Regions from separate parts of the Homo sapiens genome. Here regions 1, 2, 3 and 4 are each linked to region 5. Evidence: fine-mapped expression QTL. A gene starts in region 5. Each other region holds a variant in brackets. All regions are shown on one strand. Distances are from middle to middle. Region 1 overlaps LOC124900404 (a long non-coding RNA gene). Region 2 overlaps DPYD (dihydropyrimidine dehydrogenase). Region 3 overlaps DPYD (dihydropyrimidine dehydrogenase). Region 4 overlaps DPYD (dihydropyrimidine dehydrogenase). Region 5 holds the start of DPYD (dihydropyrimidine dehydrogenase).

Region 1 (5,112 bases), 160 kb before region 5:
GTCTGCAAATGCCTCCTACAAGACACTCTTTTCTCCTTAGCATTTACTCTTCAGGAGAATTCATCCAGTCTCATATCTAATCACTGACTCATTCTGCAAACATTCAGAGGGTGTTTATTCTATGCATGCCAGTGTCCTGAGCACTGAGTTCACAAGTATGAGTAAGGCAACATACTTGTCCTTAGAGAGCTTAGAATTGAGTTGAGGAAAAGACAAAAAAAAAAAAGAAAAGAAAGCAGTTATTGAGGTGTAGCTAGGACAATGGGCCCTGCAGAGGAGAGGAAGCCTCCTAGATAACGGAACATTTGAATCATAACTTAGTAGAAGATGGTCAGGTATTTAAACATATATATACATATATACCTATATACATATTTAATATGTGATATATGTTTACATAATATTATATATACACATAATATTATATATTATATATGTATATATGTGTATATATTGTATGTGTAAATGTGTGTATATATACACACATATATGTGTATATATTGTATGTGTATATATACACACATATATGTGTATATATTGTATGTGTATATATGTGTATATATACACATATGTGTCCCACATGCCTAAAACTTACTCCTCCTTTTTTTTTTTTTTTTTTTTTTTGGAGATAGTGAGATGGGGTTTCCCTCTGTCACCCAGTCTGGAGTGCATGATCCTGACTCACTGCAACCTCCACCTCCTGGGCTCAAGAGATTCTCACGCCTCAAACTCCTGAGTAGCTGTGACCACAGATGCATGCCACCATGCCTGGCTAATTTTTTGAATTTTTGGTAGAGACAGGGTTTTGCCATGTTGCCCAGGCTGGTCTCAAACTCCTGGGCTCAGGTGATCTGTCCCCCCAGCCTCCCAAAGTACTGAGCCACTTTTGGCCTGGTCACTCTCTCTTTCTTTAAAACAACTCCCCTCTTCTACTTCGCCATTTCTTTAACACTGCAATGGGGCTCTCTGGTCCACTAGACTTGAAAAGCCCACATTCACATTCTATCATTCTTAGGAAAAATATATTTTGCCCATACCAATTATACTGTTACCATTTTAACTTCAGAAAATCCTGGATGGGTGTGAGCGTTTGACTTAAAAAAGTACAAATCCTAGGTTTTCTTGCAATCAGTGAATTTAATCAGTCTGGGGCAGCTTGGGAAACAGGTATTTTTTTTAATATCACCAGGTGACTCTAATATGAAGCCACTTGTCTATGTTCTCATCACTACAAACCTCCATCTAATCTGTCCCTAATCTGTTTCAACAGAAAAATGTCAAATTAATCTTGCAAAAACACTGCTTTAATCACATTTCTCAGATCTAATACAACTGGAACCTTCTCACTTGATCTCTGCAATTTAAAATTCTAAAAAAATTCTGTCTTCTAACAAATATTCTTCATTCATTCATGTAATCAGCTGTTATTCAGTATCTAAATGTTAGGCTCAGGGAACTGATAGTTCTCAACTCCTCACAGTCTTCATTCCAACAAAAAAGACAGACACTATATAACCACAATTAAGTGTGATCAGTCTTAAGACAAGGAAATACTAGACTCTAAAGAAACCCATAACAAGAGAAGTTAGCTTAGTTGTCAAAGATGATCCGCTACGCTTTAAATTGAAACATCATCAAAAATTTATCAGGTAAAATGGAGAGGGAAAGGGACGATTTCCAAAAGGTAGGCCAGCATAAGCAGCATATGGTGGTTAAGTGAGAGAGATACCTCACCACTTTTGAAATGTGGAAATAGTTTCATTTCTAAGGGGGGTAATTTGTAAGGAGAACTGTTAGATATGAGTGAGGCCAGACCACACAGGCCCTTATAATGCAGCTAAGGAGTCTGGACTTTATTCTGAAGGAAATGGAAAATCACTGAGTACTTTTATGCAGGGAGTCATTTGCAAGTTTGTGTTTTTGAAAGATCACTCCAGCAGCAATGCAAGGAACAGATGAAGGGGAAGCAAAATTAGAGTTGGAGAGGACATGTGAGAGACTTGCAGTAATAATGAAAGAGATAGGGAATGGATGGTTTGGATTAAAGAAAATTAGATGGATTGGGAAGGAGTTCAGATTTAGAGTCAACAGTCCTTGGTGACAGCGAATATAAGGAACAGAGTGATACTAGGGATGACTCCCATATTACTGGTTTGGAAAAGTTGGTGAATGGAAGCATGATTTACTGAAGCAAAGAATATTGCCAGCAAAACAGTATTTTCTGTGTTGTCGGGTGGAGAAACGTAATTAACTCACTTTCAGATATTTTAAGTTTGAAGTTTCTTAAAAACAAGTTGGCTCTGAGTGAATGGATATCAGAGTGGTGGGACAACAATCAGGAGTGGCCACAGATGCCAAAGGAAAGGAGGAAAGGTAGTGAATGTTGCAGGAAGGGGCTTATTAGATTCGCAGACCCATCAGTTATTAGTAACCTAAGGGGGAAGGCAGAGTAGAGTGTGCTGAAGAGTGATAATGAAGGGAGAAAATGGACAGTCAGTGTTGAAAACTCTCCCAAAAGTCTGATCAGGGAAGAAAAGAAAGATTTTGAAATAATCAGAGGAAGTGCTGCACTTTACGATGGTTTGTTTTCCTTGGGTCAATGAGTTTGGTAGGAGTTTTGTTTAGTTTTAAATTTGATAAGTAG[G/T]CATATGTTTACATTCTGAAGGAAAGGGCCAGCATAAAGAGAAACACTGAAAATCATGAGGAGACAGTATGTATAACCATGGCTCAAAGTCTATGAGACATTAAGAGAGGGTGAGATCCAGAAAAGAATTGGAGCCTTTAAAAACCTTTATGTAAGGGAAGTTCCTTCTCAATCTTAGTAGGATGGAAACGACTGTCAAATAATAGCTTATTCCAATGCAATTTTAACTATTCCAGAAAACAGTAAGGACAATAAATTTTTTAAAAAAATTAAAAAGCAATGAAAGCATTCATACTAAAACATGAAAAAAATTCAAAAGCATCTACAGAAAAATCTCACTTGTGAATATCAGTGCAAATATCCTAAGTGAGATGTTAAAAAGCAAAATCAAGAAATGGTTTAACATAACAAGAAGAAAAGAGGTGTAGTAGCTGAACATCTTCAGGAATGCCAAGATGGGAGTTGAATGCCAGTCACTGTTGGCATTTAATAGGAAGAAGGGGGAAGACGGAAGAGGAAGGAAATCTATGCCAGGTATTCCTCTTCTTGTTAGGAAAGCAAATATTCTTCTAAGTTTCCCTGGAAGTCTGCTGTTTGTCATATGGGCCATAATTGAGTCACTTGGCCTCTCGTAACTAAAAATGAGGGTGTGTGGTGAGCAATTACCTCCAAACTCAGTGTAGAAGCAGCAAGGGAGCTTGGGATTGAGAATGGCTTGCGAATACTCATCAATAATCTATGCACAGCATGCATTCATTTCTTTGTATTTTACTCTTTACTGTATCTTAATTTACATTTGCAAATCAAAGTATAAATTGATGCTGCTGTAAAAAAATTAAAACTAAAAAAAGAACTACTTTAAAATTATAGTACATCACAAGTAAAACCATCAAATCTATTAATCTAATTCACCTAATTGACAGAAAAAAATTATATAGTCATTCCTTGGATCAGAAAAGACATGACAACATTAAACATCCATTCTAGATTTTTTTAAACATTCATCAAAATAAGTATATATGAATACTTTCTTAACAGTGCATGTGTGTATGTGTGTGTGTGCACGCGCGCGCGTGTGTGCGTTGTGTGTATGTGTCAGAGAGACGAGAGAAATATCAGCCCACAAACTGGCATTCAACCTAATGGAGACATTCTTGCTGAAGTTTAAACAAGAAAAGGATAGTCACACTCACCACTGCTATTTCATTTTGTACTGACAAGAGAAAATAATTAGAGATATAACACTTAAAGGGGGTGGGAAAACTCTTCCTATTTGCAGAAAATTTTGTTATTGGAAAACACAAAAGAATAAAATGGAGAAAAACACTACAAAAGCAAGATAATTGAGAATGAATTAAGATAGCAAGGAAAATAATTAATTCATAAAAATTAGTATCAATCATACGTAGATACAGCAAGTGAGAAGATAAATGGAAAATAATATACATTTACAATAGCCACAGAAAGATAAAATATTATGAAATAAACTTTGAAAAATGTGCCAAACCTATATAAGCAAAACCTGAAAATACTCCTAAAATACACCTAAGCGTGACTGAAGAAATAGAAAGACATATCATGTTGTTGGATAGGAAGGTGCAACATAATGAAAATATAAACTATAAGTTAATTTACACATTATACACAATTCCAATAAAAATATCAATAGATTTGTTGTAGAAATATACAAGCTAATTCTAAGTGTATACGGAAAAAATAAAAAAGAGTAAATTACCAGGAAAACTTTTTTTTTTTTAAAGAACACTGATGTAGGAATAATTCTACTAGGTATTAATCATACTCAAAAGCAGTGCTATCTAATAAAAATATTAACGAAAGCCACCTATATAATTTTAAAACATTTAGTAGCTACAATATAAAAATTTTTTAAAAGGTAGAATTAATTTAAAATATATTTTATTTAAGCCAATATATCAAAACGTTATTTCAACATGTAATCAAAATAAGTTATTATTAATATATTTAAAATTCTTTATTTAAACTACATCTTTAAAATCCAGTGTATAGTTTACAATTACAGCACATCTCATCTCATACCAGTCACATTTCAAGTGCTCAATAACCTATGTATTAGACAGCCTAGCTCTAACAACTAAAACAGTAAATTATTGGCACTGGAATAAGCAGACATGTGAATGAAACCAAATAAAAAATAGATTCAAGTAGAAACGTCAATTTATTATATGATAAGGTAGTATCTCAAATCAGTGAGTCAAGGACAAAGTTTTTAGTAATGGTGCTATAACAAATGGATAAGCATCAAAAGACAAATTCTGATCCTTATCAGTAAACACTAAGTGGACCAAAGACATAAATGTAAAAGGGAAACCATAAAAGTACTAGAAAAAAAATAGACACATTTCTTCATAGCCTTGGAAGAGCAGATTCTATTTGTAACTCAAAAATCCAGAAACTATGAGGGAAAAAGACTAAGAAGTTGCATTACA
Region 2 (5,112 bases), 210 kb after region 5:
CCTTGGACTTATTGTCCAATCTTCATTAATTTTTGTCACATGGTTTTGGAGGTGATTAGACCTTAGTGCAAAGAAAAGTATCAGGCAAGGAGAAAATGCAGTTATATTGTACTTTGCATAGTGCTTCAGTGCATTTTTGTAATATCTCACTCAAAAATGCTGATAAACAACGCTTGAGGGCATGCAAACCAGGTAATTTTTTTCCCATTTTGGACATAAGGAAACTAAGAATCAAAGTGATTACAAAATCACAGCTAATGTTAAATAAACTCCCAGTGTCCTGCACAATGTTGAGTACTTTATTTAGAGCTTGATTAATCCTCAGAATAACTCTCCAAATAATGTTATTATTTCCATTTTACATATGAGTAACAGGAAACTCCAGGAAATTAATTAACTTCCACAACCTCACATGTAGTGAGAGGCAAATCTGGAATACAAAGCTAGTGGTTTAATTTTCATTATTTCACAAACTCTTACTTGCCCCAGGTAATGTTACTAGTCAAAGACAGAGGCGCTCAATGTAAACCCTGGTTTTCTGGCTGTAAGGCCACAGCAGTATCTGTTGCATCTTCTAGGCTAGCCAAATATACTTGGTCACCATACCTCACAAGTCCTTGTTTTTCTGTTAGATATGAAGCTACTACATTGAAATAGGTTGGGTAAGACCAACACATACGGCTTAGTTGTTTTTTTTTTTTTTTTTTTGTCTTTTCTTTTTTAACTTCTGTAGCCAGGAATGAATCTTAAGTTTTATGGGGCTTCAGATAACAAAATGTTGGGTTCCTTCTTTAGAAATTACATTACAGCACTACTGAAAAATTTAAATACAAGGCCTTAGAAGGGGTCTATATGGGCCAGGCGTGGTGGGTCATGCCTTTAATCCTAGCATTTTGGGAGGCCGAGGCAGGCGGATCACAAGGTCAAATCAAGACCATCTTGGCCAACATGGTAAAACCCCATCTCTACTAAAAATAAAAAAAATTAGCCAGCTGTGGTGGTGTGCACCTTTAGTCCCAGCTACTCAAGAGGCTGAGGCAGGAGAATCACTTGAACCTGGAGGCAGAGGTTGCAATGAGCCGAGATTGCGCCACTACACACCAGCCTGGCGACAGAGCGAGACTCCATCTCAAAAAATAAATAAATAAAAAGGGGGGGTCTATGTGACGAGGAGCCTTGAAGCGTTAAGTGTTTATCTGCAGTTTTATTTTATTTTGGAATGCCTAAGTATGATTTTGTGAAAGCTGGTATACAAATAAATTTAGGAATAAACCTAGCACATTTATGATACAGTTTGACAAACTGATCAATAAAATCTATCAGTTCATTTTGTAATCTATAACTAAGATAAATTATCATGATAATGAAAAATTACTAATATATATAGCTAATAACTTTTTGCAGGTCATTTATAAATAGGATATAGATTAAACTATATTTGTTAGATTAATGATATATCACACTTGCCCTATTATCCCAAAGTTTTATCACTTTAAATGGGATTTCTCTATACTACTTCTATTTAAAATAGTACTATTCAATTATTTGTGAATGTCTTTAACCAATACCCAACCCTCAAACACAAAGGTGAATTATTTCTGAGAGAAGTAAGATATAGATGAAAAATATGCATTAAGCACTAATAAGATAAATATTTTTTACCCTGGTAAAATGTGTCTGTCTGGAATGCAAATACAAGTAACATCTTTGAAGATTTGATTTGTGTCTCTCCTTTTACTCTTAATGCAGTGATTAATAGAAAAGAATAATGTCTTGATAGAATTCACTAAATATCTGACATTCTTCTCCAAAAATCTTTAGAAATCTATTAAAATATTCCTTACTGGCACAATGATTTATAATAGAACTGTGGGGCCAGATGAATTGCTAGATGATTTTTATTACAATATTTTAGTTTGTTTTAAAACTGTATCTTAATATCTAGGACTTAAAAATAAGCTACCGTGATTTGGGGGCAATAACTTTGAAATTTAACGAAATCGCATGGTTAAAATTATTTGCGGTTACTTTTTTCTACATTAGTTTTTAAAAATAAATGTAAATTTATACTATTTCGTTGCCAATTTACAGTTTTAAAGGATTCGTTGGTTTAAGCTTCAACAACTTAAAAATGTATATACTTTCATAAAAATATTTGATGACTCATAATATAGGGTAGTATAAAGCAATATTATTGTATCAACATGAATCACTTGTAAAAGGCATGATGCTGTAAGTTAACATTTAAGCCACCCATTTATCTTCAAATAATGATGATAAGTAAAATTTAATGAAAGTAGAAAAAAAATTAAGAGGTGAACTGAAAAAGAAATATAAATACCTTTTGGGCCAGAAATGGTATAAAAACATGGGGACTAGGTTATTCTCTGCTAACTTCTGCTGGGGAGTGGTCTAAGATAAACTTAAGTGCCAAAAACATCTTGCATGGTAGAGGACTGGACTCAGCTCCACCTCATAGAAAGTTTAATAAAAAATAGGTGCAACTGCTGTACAGAGCTGAGGCTTATAGAAAGCTGCAGAAAAAAGTAGAGAAAGCTGTACAGCAGGTATTGTGGGCATGTGTCTATGGTACAGTGATTTGGTTCTGTGATGCCTCTAATCACCTTGGACTGGAGCCCTGGACTTTAAGAAACTTGGTTCTGCAGTGGGAGAGAGGGATAGGAGTATTGTTGATTGAAGGCCACACACACCTGATACAAAGCCATAGGGGGAGTGCCCCGAAAGAGAATAAAATTCACTCAACGTAAATGAGAAACAAAAAGGTAGAAACTATGTTAGGAAAGATAATCTATTAGTGATAATTTAAAGACTTACCTGATGGTACCTGACTTTATCCTAATGAAACACAAATAATATTATAATCAGGCCTTTAAAATTAATATGTATAAAATAATATCCTAAAAGGAGATAAAATAAAAAAATCAAC[G/A]GTGAGTTTAATATAAAAAATAGTTGACTGTAAATTTACACTATAATGACAATCTCAATAGAAAAGGTCAGTTTTGGGCTGGATAGAGGCATAAATTGCAGAACTAAAGAAATAAAAAGTAAAAATATGATCTGAGTATTCAACCAGAGCACAATAAAGAGATACGAATAAATGAAAAGTTTAATAGAGAAGTTCAGAAGCTTCTAAGACTCCAATACACATGTAAGGGGAGCTCCTAAAGTAGAGAGACAGAGATTGGCACAGGAGGAGCCTTAAAGCAGTTATGGTGGAAAATTTTCCAGAAGAAAGGAAAGATGAAAGGTCTTCACCTAGACACAGGGTTGTGGTAATATTGTGCAATACTAAGGATAATGAGAATCAGAACTTCAAGATAAAGGGAAAACAAATTACTGGAAAACCAAATGACAATTACTCTGACCTTAGATTTCTCATCTGCATCTACTAAGAGTTATTCTTTAGAAGGAAGGAAACAAATGTGGAAAGAAAGATAAAAGAAACAATGTGTAAAAATATGGTTGTGAATATAATTAAATATTGATCCCAGAGTAATTATAACTTATTTTGAGTTTTAAAAATAAAGATGTAAAAAAAAGTTTTATAATATTGACAAGGACGTGTTTTGGAAGATAAAAATAATAATAAAAAACTCTTAAAAGATGTAATATTCATAAACATTTATACACATGACAACATAAATTTACTCAAAATTTGTAAGGTTTATTTGTATAAAGTTTATTGGATTGATTTAAGAAATCTATACTTTTCTGAGCCTAACATAGAACGAATGCATCATTTTCATGCACTTGCAGAACATTTATCAAAACTGACCATGTACTAAAAAACAGTGACTTATAGTCCCTGACTTACAATGATTCAACTTAGGATTTTTTGACTTTAAAATGGTGTAAAAGTGATGCACATTTAGTAGAAAACTTACTTCAAATACTCATTCACCTACTTTATTTTTAACTTTCAGTACTGTATGCGATAAATTACATGAAATATTCAGTACTTTATCTTATAACAGGCTTTGTGGTAGATTATTTTGCCTATCTGTGGGCTAATGTAAGTGTCCTGAGCATATGATTTTGGATAAGTTTCTTATAACTAAACTATAAACACTTAACGTTTTCATCTATATTTGGTCAGTTTTAACCACTCTATTCAATTGGTTTATCAAATATCCAATATAACCTTTGTTTAGTCATAATAACACAGACTATAATCTTATGAGTCAGTTCCTTTGTATAGAAAATGAACAATCATACCTAAAGTCGAAGATTTTTAGGATTGGAGATATAAATATTAAGTTCCCCAGAGAGTGCCTTGTAAGGAAAAGGCATTCATCACAAGAAGTTATCACCATTGACTCTAATCTTCACAATAAATTGCTGAAGTAATCATTACTCTTTTAATTTTCAGTGTTGGTATTTAAAAAGGTGAAGTACTGTCTAATATATATATGTTTTTTTTATTGTTGTTTTTAAGGTTTGGCTTAGGTGTCAATTTCTCTTTCAGGTGGGTTTACCTTCTCAAATACTCTGAGAGCAACGTTTGTGAAAATTAACCCTGTTCCAGACAGGCTACATAGTAATATAGTTTATTAAAAATATTTAGGACATGTGAGTGCTCTATTATCCAGGGAGCTAGTTACTGGAGAGTCTATGTTTTTTTTCATACTGGTGTCTAGGACATAGGAGGTACCTAAACAATACCTACCAAATTGAAAAGGAAATTGAATGAAAGAATATTCTGATTTCAGCTAACACAGTATTTTTAACCTGCCAGTTGTTTCTCTCAATGTCTATTTTAATAATATGAAAATTATGGAAAAAAATCTTTGAGAATTACTAATACAGTAATAATTTTGATAAATAAAAATTTGACATTACATGAAGTTTTTATCATTTTTAATACATTTGAAACACAGTACTCACTTTTGGTGTTCCTGGTCTAATTGTTATGAAGAAAACTATTTGTCAAGAAGCCCAAGTATATTTCTTTTCAAAGAATGAATGCAGTGATTAGTATGTACTCAGTATTTCCTTTGACTTGTCTTACAAAAGGAAACAAACAACAAAGAAAATTACATAGAAGCATCTCCTAGAAGGTATGTAATTTCAGGAAACTTACTTTTGGATGCA
Region 3 (5,112 bases), 220 kb after region 5:
ATTTTAGGTGAAAATACATACATATTGTGTATTATTTGGTAATTGCTACTTTATTATTTGCATGCCATTAGCTAGAATTTGTTCAGATATGCTAGGCGTTTCAGAACTAACCTATTTCTTGCTTATGAGTGAATGCTGAGCACAAATTATATTCCATTTGGTTATGACACTGTAACTTCATATTATAATGAATGCTGTAGCCTTAGTACATTTAAATCTGCTTCCATTGTAAAAGATGTCAGCAATAAATGATACTTTTAAATACATCATAAATGTCTTCATTTAAGATTTGTTAAAACACAATGTTATTTGTAAATGTTAGCAGATTTTAACATGGGAAAGTTAAATATTTAATTATTAGTTCACAAAGCTAAAATTATTCAACTAAATATGAAAGAAATTAGCATTTATTTAATCCCTAAATAAAATTAGCTATATCTCTGTTCCCTGATCAGAGATCCTTGATCACGTTAAACATATGTTTTAAGTATCTCTTTATGAAAAGTATGTGAAATCTTTCTTTGGGGAAATATAAAAAATATATTTTAACTATATTTTAATTAATGATCTAATAAAATATATATTTATGAAAAGTATGTGAAACCTTTCTTTGGGGAAATATAAAATATATTTTAACTACATTTTAATTAATGATCATATAAAACTACCAGAATTTAGTTCCTTGTTCACATTGCTTAGAAAGGAATAAAAGATAACAGTATATGTTGATTCAAAAACAATATTTAAGAAAATCTGTACTGTTTGGATAGCACAGGGAAGAGCAGGAACACATATTAATAATTTGTAAATTATACAAATTGTAGCTGGGAATAAGAAATTATTTTATTACCAATTTAAACTCATTAGTTAACATATATTCCCCCTTATGTATAAAAACACTGAATATTAAAAGGTGAATTCAAAGATGTTGTCTTCCCTTAAATATTTTATGGTCTAAGAGAGGAAACAGATAAGTAAACCAGTAAAAGTGACAAAGTATTAGAATGAAAATGACAAAATATTATGAGACCATTTATGAGGACCTTTCATCTCATGCTTAGAAATTGACCCTATAATACTTGTTGATAATACCCTCTTCAATTTTTTAAAATAAGATTGTTTGGATGTTCCTTATGTGTTTTGACTTTATTTACAATAGTTTGTGGTATATGTGGGATGAGGTTAAGAAAATGTAAAGTCCTGTCACCTTTATTCCTCATTCTTAAGAAAACTTACATTTATATCTATTGATCTCTGTCTGGGTTTCCAGGAGAGAAAGTTACTGCTTTGACCTATTAAATGCAAGCAACTGTGTGAGCCAATCCATTGGATAGCATAAATAACTTACCTATAATATGGATTTATTCATTGGCCACTTCTATTGGTAGTCAAGTTTTCATGAGAGTAGAATAATGAGATTATAGTGATTTATTTATTTTACTTTTAGTTCTATCAATTTTGCTTTATATATTTAAAATTGTATTTTAAAATCTTGTTGAAAGATTGACCATTTCCTTGCTATGAAATGTTCTTTAAGTTTAGTAATGCATCTTGCCTTAAAGTGTAATATTTCTAATATTGGTATATATATATTTCATATATATATATAATATATATATGTACCAGCTTTCTTTTGGTTAGTGTTTGCTTTGTATAACTTTTTCTAGTCTTTAACTTTACACTTATCTATCTGTGCTCTTATATTTAAGGCATTTATCTTCCATAACTTTTGTCTTTTAATTGGAATTTTAGTCCATTTACATTTAATATAATTTCTCATGTTGACATTTATATTTACCATCTTACCATTTGTTTCTTTGTTTCCTACCCTCTACCACCTATTTATAATAATTTTAATTAATACATTTTAATAATGTGTTTTTAAAATCCCACTCCCTCCTTCCACATTAGCTAGTTATTTTTTTTGCTAAATATGTTTTACTAAATGTACTTAGTAAATTTAATTTTTTATTTTTAACAAATTCCAGCTTTTAATGAAGTTTACATTCTTCTTACATATTTTTGAACATATCAATCATAGTTATTCTAAAATTTATTTTTGATAACCACACTTACGAGATTATGTATGTATCTCTTTCAATTTTTTTAGGTTTATTTTTCTTGCAGGCTTGGACTTTTAAAAATAAAAACCCAGGCATTTTATAAAAAATTTGTAGAAACTGTGGTTGACTTATTATTCACAGAAAGTGCATTCTATCGTTTGGTACATAGATAACAGTGAGGACTGATCACTGTCATTTAAATCCAGGGCTGAGTTGACTCAAGGCTAGGTTGGCTATTTACCCCTCATTTGCCCTACTTGTAGAGTGTAGCCCTCCAGAAGCTTCAGCCGTACACTGAGGTGTGTACTAGGGCTCTTTCTTATTTAGTCACTCCAGTTTTTGTTTTTCCTGGACCATAGGGTTTTCTGTTTAGATCTTTAGGTTTTTGTCATATGCACTTTAAGAATTAATCTCACTCTTCTGTACTTTATTTTGCTCTAGGTTAATGGCCTCCTACATTTCCAAAACTCTGTGTCTCTCTGGTTTCAAAAGACTGCCAACATCTCTTTTCTGAGCTGTGGTTCTCTTCAAGATGCTTAGCCTTCCTCCCTTTGGTAAGAAGTCGCAAATCCCTCAGGG[G/T]AAAAGTGACTTCTGGTCACTTAACTTTGTTCTTACTTTCCTCTGAGATGTTAGCCCTTCCAAGATGCCTGCGTCAGTAGTTCTTGAATGTTTCAACTATTTTTTTAAATCATTATTCTCCCAAAGTTAATCTGTCATAATCAAAAGCAGAATTCAAGAAATTATTTATTAAATGTCTACCGTGTGCCATCGCAATGCTAACTCCTATAATGCAAGGGTAATGTGTTTACATGTGACATGTTTTCTGATTCAGGGAACTAACATTCATTCTACTGACTGACATCATAACACATACCACAGATGGTTATGTTAGAGACATACAGATTATGCTGTAGGAGCTTAGAGGAGAGGCACTTAATGTACCCTCTAGGTGGGAGTAGGGAATGTGCCCCATGAGTGTTTCCTAGAGGAGGCATGACTCTAGAAAGGAAAGACTGAAAGTTAGCCATAACTCCTCATCTACTTGACACAATAAAAGTTGTAAGTATACCATATTAATACTGAAAATGTACTGCTCATTGCTATTTAAAACAAGAATTCGTTTGAAACATTAAAAATATGTTTGAGGATGTAAGCTAGTTTCAAAATTTTAACCATGACAATTGATTTCCCCGTAGGTATTCAAAGCAATGAGTATCCCACAGATCAGAAATCCTTCGCTGCCTCCCCCAGAAAAAATGTCTGAAGCCTATTCTGCAAAGATTGCTCTTTTTGGTGCTGGGCCTGCAAGTATAAGTTGTGCTTCCTTTTTGGCTCGATTGGGGTACTCTGACATCACTATATTTGAAAAACAAGAATATGTTGGTGGTTTAAGGTAATGCCTACATTTATTTCATGTTTATAGTGTCAGAAATGATGGAGCAAAACAATTATGAATATTGTTGGTTCATAATCATATAGGAACTTCAGGCTCACAGATGGTATTTTAAATGTTCTTTTTCCAAATGTTCAAGTTTTGATTACATTATTCACTTTAAAATTTGCAGTTGGCTTGAAGCAATATTTATTTAAAAAATTTTCTCTCTAGTTCTGTGAATTTAAGAGAAATCTCTGCAAATTATTTTTTGATTATAAGAACCAATCATATGAAAAATGATTTTAGCCCTGTGAATATTTCTTTTAATGGAGATATAACTGAAAATCCTGGATATTAGTGATGTGGAAAACCTAGATCCATGGAATATTGGACTATTCATTGTGTTGTCTACATAGATATGTTGTCTTACATATTTTCAGTTTAAAATTTCTTAAGTCTTACTTTTGATTAAAATTTTGTCAGCATGTACTAGAAATGTATTTAAATATACATTTTTAAAATCACATGATCATATTATTCCCATGAAAATTTATACATGGAAATGGGAATATATATTGAAAATAAACAGAACTCTATACGGGACACATATTTCATTATCATAAAGAAATAAAATTTATTACAATTAGGGAATAGATATTGCTTAAAACATTTTATACAAAATAAAGAATTTGGATGGTAACTGAATAATATTACTCAATTGATTTTTATTTTCTCTATGTATATTATCAAAAAAATCATGGATTACAAAATGTATCCATTTGGAATATCTGTTTCTATGCTTAACATTTAAATTTGTTGTGGCTACTGCCCTATGTGTAACAAATAAATTAATCATACCCAATAATCACAGAGGATAAATTTAATCAAATTTGTTACTAAAATTTGTGAAGTTTCTTATGTTTTTTGGCACCAGTGAATATATGTTAATAAATGTATAAATTTCAATATTACTCAAACAACAATATGCTAAGCCCAAGATAATATAAAATTATCAATTATCAATTATTTGTATCATTGATATAAATATGTTGATATATTTATTAACATAAATATTGATGTATAAGCTATCATTAATATAATCTTATTTGACTGAATCATCAAGCAAAAATATCACATTTTAGGAAGACCCTTTAGTGTGGGCATGAAACATAAATAACCTGATTGTTAAGAAATAATTATTCTTCTGTACTGATGTTCCACTACTATGAATTCCAAGAGATTACATGTATTTTATGAATTTATTTTTCTGGAAAGTAAAATGTCCTATATATTATTTCTCTGGAAAGATTTAGAATATCATTTTAATGGTATTTACCACAGCTTTATTAATTAGAAAAAACATAATCTATTAACAATATATGTATAAGCATTGTATGTTGTTTTCAGTTATACACATCAGTGAATATCTGAGTCAATTTTTAAAATATGAACTTAATTGTGTACCCTGGTAAACTAGGAAAAATCTGTTTGCCACTTGATTGCATTTTCACAAAAGGCCTAAAATGGAACCAACCCTATTTGTAACTTACTATGTATTGCCAATTTTGGTAGATTACTGTTGTTAGCCTATCTCTTTTTTAACTCAAATGCAGGATAGGCATTTGTAATTCATATAAATTAGTACTAAACTTGTTTTTTTTAAATTTATTTGCT
Region 4 (5,112 bases), 320 kb after region 5:
TCTTCTTCACACCTGGGATTTGTGAGTCTATCTCCAAAGATGACTGTCTTTCTCATGATGGCTTAGCTGTCATTCAGATGAATCCTTTCAAGGACAGGAAGCATCACACAAATGCTTGCATCATTCAGTTAACACTAAACAAGTGGCTTGGTGAAGTAACACAAGCAAACATTATAGAATCTGAGTAATTCTTAAACATGCCCTACCATAGCTATGAAAGCAAAGCCTTAAAAGCTTTTTTTTTTCTCTTATTACTTCCTAGATTTTAATATGTAACAGAACATCTAATATCTTGTTCATGTTAACTGAAGTTGTGCAAAACTTTATGTGAGCACAAGGAAAGAATTTACTATATATACTGCTGTTATTTATTCTGTAGTTGTTCCAGAGGGAGGTGCTTTGGCAACAATGCAAGGATACACATTTCAAAGAATATCAAATAGTGAAAAATAACCAGGATATACCCAAGAGGAATTCACTTAAGAAGGAAAACATTTCAGAAAGGGATTGTACTGGAGAAAATAATCACAAAACAAAAATGCTGACAAGAGAAGCAGCCAGTCCTTTCTCTGTCACTAGATTGGAACCTGGCTGCAGACACATCCTGTGAGGTACGCATATCTGCAGCCTTGTAGAGAAACTTAATACATACATGTTGAATGATTACTTTAGATAGGACTGGTTATGTAGCTTCACATTATAACCTGGCCTAGTTATAACCTTAAACATGAAAAAGGCAGCCATTTTGAACTCATAACATAGACTCTACAACCAGTGTCCACGTTAGAAATTGGCGCTGCTTCTTACATGTTCTGTGATCCTTCAGCGAGTTACTTAATCCCTATATGCCTCAATTTCCTCATATTTAAAATGTGGATAATAACATCAGTTGCCTCATACAATTATTTTGAGAATTAAAATGAGTTATATAATAATCACCTGGGGGCCAGGCATTTAGAGTAGTGTCTGTAGTCAATAAAAGTTAATTTAAATTTTCTGTAACATAAGCAGGATCCTTCCTTCCTTCCTTCGTTCCTCCCTCCCTCCCTCCTTCCCTCCCTCCCTCCCTTCTTTTTCAGAGAACGTGAAAATCACCATTTAAAAATAATTCTTAAGGAGGTGTTCCTTTGTATAAATGCATGCTAAAACACCAAAAACTTCAATAACTATTCTAAAGAAACAAACTATCCGGCCTCCTTGAAAGACAAAGACTATACATATCTACTACGCTGAACTGTTTTGTTTGTCAAATCTTTGTCAATTCATCTTTATTCATAAACTCTCTTTTTCACACTGAAAGGTGAATTAAAAAGTCATTTCAGTGTCATTTTGAAATCATCCTAGTATAGACACATACCTTATTTATTAATATGCCACCTACTCTCAGAGAAGTCTTCCTTTGATAGATGACTATTTGCAAGTTTCATTTTCTTTCATATTTCACTTAAGGTTGCCTCATTTTTCTTTCTTTGTGGAACTTGATTTACATATGCTAAGGTTTAATACTTTATTTTTATTTAAGCTTTTATTCTTTCCTTGCCATGCAATATGAAGTATGAAATAATTGATAAATTATAGAATAAACCTATCTTAATATTAATAGCTAATGTTTAATGAGTATTCACGATGTGCCAGCTCTCAATTATATATATGGTTTATCCATATGGATATATTTTTAATATTTTCATAATTTTGTAATTTTTTTAACATTTTTAAAAAATCTCACATCCATGAGAGAAGTAGAATTTTTATCTCTGTTTTTAGAAATGAAGTAGTGGAAAATCAATTTCAGGGTTCTCCAGAAAAACATAATTAGTAGGATGGACAGATGGGTAGATAGAGATGACTTATTTTAGGGAATTGGGCTATTTAATTGTGGGAGCTGGTAAGTCCAACTCCTTAGCGCAGGACAGGAGACTGGAACTCCCAAGTAGGAGCTGATTGTGCAGACTTAAGACAGAATTTCTCCTTCCTCAGGGAAACCACAATTTTGTTCTTAAGGCCTTTTGATTAATTGATTGGATAGGGCCCACCCACATTATTGAGGCAATCTCCTTAAAGTCAAGTGGTTGTAGATATTAATCACATCAACAAAAGGCTTTCCCAGCAATACCTACCTTAGTGTTTGATTGACTAACGGGTGTTATAGCCTAGCCAAATTGACATCTAACCCTAACCTTCACAGGATTCACAGGAACTTATACAATACCACAGAACTGGTAAATGAGAGAGGAAGGACTCATACCAAAGTCTGTCTAGTGACAAAATCCCTGCTTCTGATCATCCCACAGCACTATGATTAGCATAGACTATCAAAGTATCCACATGGAGACCTTCAGATGCACTGTCCCTGGCCAGAAGGGATGACCTGTCACCCAGGTAGAGGAGGAGGGCTCCGTGGACCTTGAGGCCCTATGTGTGACCTGGGGTGTGGCTAAATAAACTGGAAAGAAAAGCTAATTATATGTAGCATATGTATATGTTGGTTTGAATAGTCAAATGTAGACCTAACTTCAGTCTTCTTTTAACAGGTTTCAGAAGAAATCATTTTGTCATTAGAGAGCCTTCAAGAACATATTCAGCTATTTTTACCAACCCCATCCCTCCAACCCAGGTTTTCTAAAAGAATCACATAAACGGCCACCCATTTATATAATTGTTTCTGTTACTAATATACCTTTTTATGTCATAAAAGGGGGAAACAGTCTTATCCCCATTTCCTTTACAGAGAAGCTGAGGCAAAGGCAGGTGAGGTGGCTCCCCTAACTATGCTACTACATAATGGAAATCATTTTGAAAGCAAAAGTTCTTTTAAAATCATTTATGAGCAAATGCTATGGAAAAGGAGATTCAGGGGATGCTGGATGGGGAAGAAAAATGTTTGGTTTAATCTGAAGAGACAATGGTGGTTTATTGCTGATTACAGGCAACCCACAGAAACCTTCAGCTTTCAGATCAGATATGGCACCCACCTTATCTCATATGACAAAAGTCATCCTTCGGCTATGCTTATTACTCTGTATCTACCAGCAAATGTCCATTGCCCTTCATTTCATTGTAAAATAAACTCCTGCCTCTCTAGAATGACCCATTGGT[A/G]GAATGAGTCTTAGTAATAAAATAAAACTACATGTTTTCCCCTGCATTTATGGAATTGAGATGAATTATTTCTCTACTTGCCTTGGATGGGGTGACTGCTATAAGATTTTCTTCATTTACACTTTGGAAAAAATTTAGTCTGCCATTTATTTTCCTTTCAAAGTTTTGGTAAGAATTTACTAATTTATAGTTGATATATGTACAATGTAGAAAATTTGGAAAATAAGGAAATAATAAAAATTGGAATATCCTTAATACCACCACTCTAAATGATCTCTGTTTAGATTACATGGTTTATATTAATACATTTTTTTACAAAATTTGAATTATACTATACAGAGTTTTGAATCCTGCAGGTTCATTTAAGACTGTATTTTGATTACAATCTTATACCATATTTCTCAAATATTCGTTCTGTTGTCTTTTTCTTTTATACGGTAAAACTAATTTCTTCATTTACCTGACATTCTGGTACTCTCTCATCTTATTTTCCTCTTTCTGTATTAATCATTTTTGTGCATTAAACCTTTATTTGCATGTGTCAGTATTTTCTTAAGATAGATTTAAGACTATTTTCTAGATATTGAACACCAATGTATATTTCCACTGAAAGAGTATGACAAGTTCCATGTCTACCCTTGGTGTATAGTTTAATTTTCTTAAATATTTTTCTTTTTATAGAGAAGTTACAATTTTATTCTTTTAATTTGCAGTTTAATGACTTAATGGAGTTAATATTTTTAGTGCTTATAGGTGATTTATATTTTTTCTTCTCCCAATTTTTATTATTCTTTATGTTTCCATTGAAAAGCTAATATGTTCCTTACTGATTTGGAGAATTTATACAGTAAAGACATTTAATTATTAAAACATCTTCTTGGTTAATAATTTTCGTTTTAATTCATTTATATTTTTTAAATTTAGCAGTGGTTGAATTATTGTGGCAAAATACATTGTTTTTTCCTTTAATTTTTTTCTTTCATTAAAAAAGAAATGATTTTACTTATTCAGGAATTAGATAAATATGTACCCATTTTTAACTTTTTTTATATTTAGTACTTTAATGTAGCTGAAACTGACTTATTTATGATATGAGGCAAGAATATAACCTGATTTTCCCTGTAATGTTATATATGTTTATGTGTGTATATACATATGTTTCCATATATTTATAGGTATACATTAATGTGTGATTTACGATGTGTACTTGGTTATATATTAAAGATATACATAATATACTCTGAGATCCGTTAGACTGTATTATGTACATTTTATATTGATTTGCTTACAGATGTTTTCCTCTAAGAATGACATTATTTCAAAGATTAAAGTTTTCTTTTTTGTTTTAATATCTAATAGGAAAAGCCCCTCCTCCTGCTAATGATATTTTATAAATTTGATTACTTAGGTTTGCCAGAACCCAATAAAGATGCCATCTTCCAAGGCCTGACGCAGGACCAGGGGTTTTATACATCCAAAGACTTTTTGCCACTTGTAGCCAAAGGCAGTAAAGCAGGTATAACATATTGTCTTTTATGCTTAATAGTGAGTATGCTATTTTATTTATGATAAATTAATATCAAAATCAAGCTCAGCAGCACATTGTTCAGCTCTCACACCCAACCTTGCCTAAGACCCAAATGTAAAATTAAAAAAAAAAAGGCCGGGTATAACAGTTTGCCAGAATCATCTGTTTGTTCATTCTTCCAATAAAGTATCATCGTAAGGAATTTTCACTGTAATATATATGTCTAAACTACATCATGAAAAATTGCTTCAAGGTAAGCAAGTCCTTAACAAACATTGGAAGATGTTTTTCAAAGAAATGGCATGAATCGTCACATATCTTATATGATTTGTATCTACACAGGCAGAAAGATTGACTGTCTTCTCTTAAACAGTAATTTTATGATGTTAAAATAAAATACTTTGATAGACACCCTATCACTTTATACACCCCAAGAAGAACCACCTGAATGAAGGTTGTACCTTGGTTTGGCCTGACCAGAGTCATTG
Region 5 (5,112 bases):
TTCTTGGTCTCTTATGCTTCAGTCCTGAGCTAGGAACTGAGTATCCAGTAAACAATAAAAGTACACATGGGCCCCCTCTTCCTGGAGCTTCCTCTCTAAATAGAAGACATATATTAAATGAATCACATTCAAATAAATATTTAAACAACATTTGAAAAGTCTATGAAGACGAAATATAATGAAAAAGACAGAGTGGGTGTAATTTTGTTGGTGATGGGGTTAGATCATAAAGGCTTCAGTGAGACCTAAATGATGAGTAGAAGGGGAAGAAGAGCTCCAAGTGGAGGGCAATGTGCAAAGGTAGAGAAGTGGATGGAGGATGAGAAGATTACCTTGTGGTTGGAACATAATGAGTCAGGGCAAGAGTGGCGGAGAAGCGGAGTAGAGCAGGTTATTCAGCGGTTACTAGGGAGTTTGTATTATATTCTGACTGCAATGGACCATTGAAGGATTTATACCATGGGTACCTGGGTGTGTGGATGTATCGTTGTATGGCATGAGCCAGTTAATACTTTCTAAAGCTCAATCTGGTATGGATATGAGGTAAGAATAGAAGCTAGAATACCAGTAGCTTGGACCATGGTGGATGCAGCAAAATGGAGAAATGAATGATTCAAAATCTATTTAGGAGGTTGACTTCTGAGAGTTTGGGCATAGATTAAATGAGGCAATAAGGATAAAGGAGTCAAAGATGATTCTAAGGTTTCCATTTAACTTTCTAGTGTCTGTTAATATTTGATTCAAGAAAAATGTATCTGTCTTTTAGTAATTTCCAGGTTCTGGAAGGTAATCTGATGGTTTGTTCAGAGAAGCCTTCTCAACCACGCAAGGTACCCATACCCTAGTTATTCTGTCCTATTTTTCTTTTATCTTACAAGCAGGCATCACATTTTCTTACTTGCTTATTTTGAGTATAATCTCCATGACAGTGATGTGTATTCTTGAAGACTATATCCGGAGAACCTAGCACAGTGTCTGTGTCTGGCATATTGAAAATGCTCAATAAACATATTCGTTGAATAAAACGATGAATGGACTAATGAAAAAATAATAAGGGAGAAATACTTGACTCCAAGGTGTCACTACCTAGCCAAGTGCATGAAGGAGTGCCGCAAATGTCCTAACGGAAGTAGAAAGTGTTATGGTAGAAGAGAGGTGGGATGCATCTAACAGGGGTGGGGGGGGGGCGGGGAGAAAAGGAGAGAGGTCTGGAGTACACATATCCTCAAAAAACGAGGTGAATGTTTTCTGGATTGGGACCAACTCTACAGGAAATCTCTCCCTTCTCCTCAGCAAGCTCTAGAGCAAAAACGAAGAGCAACTTTTCAAAAGAGTTTCACGTTTTAGAATAAAAAATATTTAAAAAAATAACCATTAAAATGAGACTTTCCTGCAAAAAGACAACCTTGATTATGTACCACCTGCAGCACTTCCTGTATGCTGCTGCGGGCTGTGGATGTTTTTGCTCGCCTCCCTCCCCTCCCCGCTGGGGCTGTGAACTCTCAGAAGACCGGTGCTTTGGTATCCTCCACTGCAGCTCAAACCCCGCCCACCTACTTGGTGGATGGATGGAGGAACATCTACTATTTCATCCTTGAGGAGTTCCTGAAAATGCAGTTGCCCCTCAAACAATGTATCTACATCTCGCGGGGTTTCTGTGGAAGAAAAGAAAAAGTGCAAGTTGTTGCTTGGAGCGCGGACTGCTTTTACCTTTGCCTGGGGATCCCTCCTATCTGGCCCCGCCTGCCTAGCTCTGTTTTTAGCAGTTTAGAGATTAAAGGCCAGTCCCCAGAGCGGGTGCTCTACTCCCTCCCTCCCTTCTGCTTGCAGGCTGGGGCGCGGAGCGGGCTGAACTGGGAAGGCCGGGCTGCGGCTGCCGTGCCTGGCGCGGGAGCCGCAGGACCGAGAGCGCAGCCCCGCCCCGGGGGCGTTGCCGCCCCGCGCCCGCTCCGCCCCCGCGCCGCCGGCCCTAGTCTGCCTGTTTTCGACTCGCGCTCCGGCTGCTGTCACTTGGCTCTCTGGCTGGAGCTTGAGGACGCAAGGAGGGTTTGTCACTGGCAGACTCGAGACTGTAGGCACTGCCATGGCCCCTGTGCTCAGTAAGGACTCGGCGGACATCGAGGTACGGACTTCGCGCCGGCTCGTCGGTGGTGGCGGGGTGGTGGGGAGTGCTCTGCGGGTAGGTGCCGGGGAGGCCCCCGCGGCCCCCGCACCCCGGAGAGTGAGAGACGCGGGAAAGTTTCCCCCGTGGGAGCTCTGCGGGGGAGCGGAGGAGCGCGGAGCCACAGGCCCGCGTGGGCAGGCGGGGAGCTCAGGGGAGGACTTTCCGCTACTGGAGGGGTTGCCCTTTGCGTCGGGACCTGTTTACTTCGGAAGAGATTTCAGGAAGCCTGTCTTGTCCTCCTCTGAATGTCAGTGACTGAAGAAGCACTGGAGTTCCAGAGAGGTGGACTCTAGGGGGTAGGAGTGCCCATTTCCCACACGTTCTACCCCTTCACCTCCTGTATGTCGTTTCTGGACACCTCCACTGCCCCCATTTCCAATAGCTGAATCCTGCTATTTGCAAAGGTGAAGCATAGAAATAAAACATCTGTGTGTCAGCTGTAGCAGTCGCCTCTAGTCATAGTATTGTTTATGAAATAATTTAACATGGAGAGAATGGAACGAAGTATTCAGAACATGAAAAATGCAGTGCCCTCAGAAAAACTAACTGTATTTTTCTCTCCTCTCAACGGTTTTTGATTCCCTCTTGCACTCCGTTTCTGTTAAAAAAAATCTTTTTTTATGTAAATAAGGTCCTACCTGAAACGACATGGCATTTCCTTTCTCTCTAGTATCTTAATATATGCGATGAAAAGGATTTAATTATCAACAGTGATTTTACACATACTAAACCTAGGTCAGCACTTTTGAGCTAAGACAAACTGATTTTTAGTTTTCTGTTTTGTTTGGGGCTTTTCTTTATTTGAGTCTTCTACTCTGGTAGAAAATTATGTGTGTGTGTGTTTTCTTTAGAAATAACAAAATTTTCCTTTCGTCAGTCCTTTTGGCGGCTTAAGTAAAAGTTTTGCAAACCACCTGTTTGCAAAATAGCTGCTTTTGCCACATTTTGCCTCCGTAATTGAAGAAACTTTATATTCTGGGAGGAAGTAGTCCTGTTTTCTCCAGGCTCCATAACTTGGTTTGAAAAATCATTTTAGTAACAAGAGCCAAAGTGTATTATGTGGACATCTCTGGTTAGTTTACTTTTGGTTTCTGTTTTGGAGAGTTGACTTTTTGATATTGAGCAATATGATATATTTAACAAATAGTTGTTCATCTGTGTGCAGGATAATAGATACTTGTCTTTTTCTATATTTCATTTAGGGTAGTCTATTCCTTTTTGGTCCTTGTGACTTTGACTTAACTTTTTAAAAAATTTTATTTACTAAGTCGAAAAACAAGCTTCTGACAGTATTAAGGCAGTATTGATTTAAGATATCGGAGTTGACTTAGGATGGGTGGCTTTTGGCTCTTTAATTTCAGAATGGTGTGTTATCTGCTTAACTGATTTCTTTCTCTGCAGTTGTCTTCGAAATCAGTTCTTACATTCTACTGAGGAGAAAGATGCCAGTGAAACATTGAATGCCAAGCTTGATTTCATATATTGTTTCAACTAAGAACATTTAAGAAGCCCATCCTTCCCACTCCCTCCACTCAATTCAACCTTAGTCTATATGGCCAGTTTGCCTAATATTACTTTTAATCTAGATTGCTGGTGTTCAAACACCTTCAGCTCTTATGTAGTTCATATGTGCAACACTTTAATCAGTAACATCTTTCATCACTCACAGCACCTTACTTTTCCCTCAAAGTAATACCCGTGATTCATGAGCTAGAATACCATGAAAGAGCATGAAATTAATCATTAAAATATAATGCAGTGAGGAAAAATACATTAAGCTTAGGGGAGCACATTCAAGCATAAATGCCTCAGTTGATCCTATTGATTTACCAAAGTTCATTTTTGTGTTGAAGAATTAGAATGAATTATAAAGGCTCAGTTTTCCATCAAATTTGAATGCTTTTCTTGAACAAATTCATTACAACCATTGTCTAGAGATCTGATTGTGATCATTGTTTTAGCTTCAAATACATGGATAAGCAAGTAATATTTTAAAAATATTGGTATGAAGCAGTTAATGAATGTGATAAGAACACATTGATAAATGTGAAAAGTACTTGACAATTGTTAAAAGAACAGAAGGTGATGATAACAACCTACTCTAATAGTGACTGACTTTTCCCTATGAGCTAACTACAGAACCTCAGGTTTCAGTGAAACAGCCAAGAAATATCTTTGTTTCTGGGGGAAAAGTTATTGAGGTATATATAAAGGTGCTTTGTGTGCCTGCTTCATAATTTCTAGTCTGAATCCAATATCACATCAGGATTTGACGGTTAGGAACATGGAAAACAATCAGATCACCAAACTCCATAGCTGGAATATCCCTGGGCTGGGAGATAGGCAAGGAAAGGATGTGTTACTTGGTAATAGGACCTAGCTCATTACTCAGAATTGTTGTTGTTGTTGTTGTAATCATAGAAGTTGCATGAGAAATCATGTTTTTTTTCAGATATATTAATGTGGTTCAGAGCCTGGCTTCTGAAACCAACTGCCTCTGATTGAGGTCTAACTTTAAGCTGTGTGTTTGGGCAAGTTAGCCTCTCTGAATTGCACATGGAAAATCTGCTAAGGATAATAAACAAATGTCACAAGTTGACAGCATCTTGTTGGGAAAAAGGACAAAAATGTTAAAAAATAAAGATAACAGAAAAATATATCTTATTCTCAGGAAAATCACTTCCAATGAAATGATTAGCATTTTAAAGTCCGTTAATAGTAGTTATATGCTTTTAGAAGTTATTTTGCTTTGTGAGTGTACTGTTTGGATACAGTCTGAATTTTGTCAACGATGACTTTAATACAAACTCTCCTGGGATGGTTTCAAAGAAGGTTAGTATTGGACATTGGTCACTTTCCCAGGCCTCAGCAGTAACTTAACAGCACTTCTTCATTTAGATTGAATTTACAGCCAGTATATTGTGAATATCTGCACACTTGAAAGGAAA

Evidence for each region.
Region 1: its variant is fine-mapped to the expression of DPYD in whole blood (TOPMed, PIP above 0.99).
Region 2: its variant is fine-mapped to the expression of DPYD in blood mononuclear cells (TOPMed, PIP above 0.99).
Region 3: its variant is fine-mapped to the expression of DPYD in whole blood (TOPMed, PIP above 0.99).
Region 4: its variant is fine-mapped to the expression of DPYD in whole blood (TOPMed, PIP above 0.99).

What each region holds. Positions count from the first base shown.
Region 1 is chr1:98,081,937-98,087,048 of GRCh38, reverse strand. All of the region lies in intron 1 of LOC124900404 (a long non-coding RNA gene), which reads right to left. Among named protein-coding and RNA genes, the nearest start is that of MIR137HG, 35 kb to the right of the region's middle. RefSeq lists an enhancer at 1-167. The variant G/T (reference allele first, on the strand shown) is at 2,645.
Region 2 is chr1:97,710,252-97,715,363 of GRCh38, reverse strand. The region is part of intron 5 of DPYD (dihydropyrimidine dehydrogenase); the gene reads left to right. Among named protein-coding and RNA genes, the nearest start is that of DPYD-AS2, 84 kb to the left of the region's middle. The variant G/A (reference allele first, on the strand shown) is at 2,948.
Region 3 is chr1:97,697,695-97,702,806 of GRCh38, reverse strand. DPYD (dihydropyrimidine dehydrogenase) reads left to right here. Exons shown (of 23, transcript NM_000110.4): 6 at 3,260-3,456. Among named protein-coding and RNA genes, the nearest start is that of DPYD-AS2, 97 kb to the left of the region's middle. The variant G/T (reference allele first, on the strand shown) is at 2,643.
Region 4 is chr1:97,594,559-97,599,670 of GRCh38, reverse strand. It overlaps DPYD (dihydropyrimidine dehydrogenase), which reads left to right. Exons shown (of 23, transcript NM_000110.4): 9 at 4,505-4,612. Among named protein-coding and RNA genes, the nearest start is that of DPYD-AS2, 200 kb to the left of the region's middle. The variant A/G (reference allele first, on the strand shown) is at 3,097.
Region 5 is chr1:97,917,894-97,923,005 of GRCh38, reverse strand. DPYD (dihydropyrimidine dehydrogenase) reads left to right here and starts at 1,972. Exons shown (of 23, transcript NM_000110.4): 1 at 1,972-2,122. The coding sequence starts at 2,084. RefSeq lists a silencer at 1,767-2,166.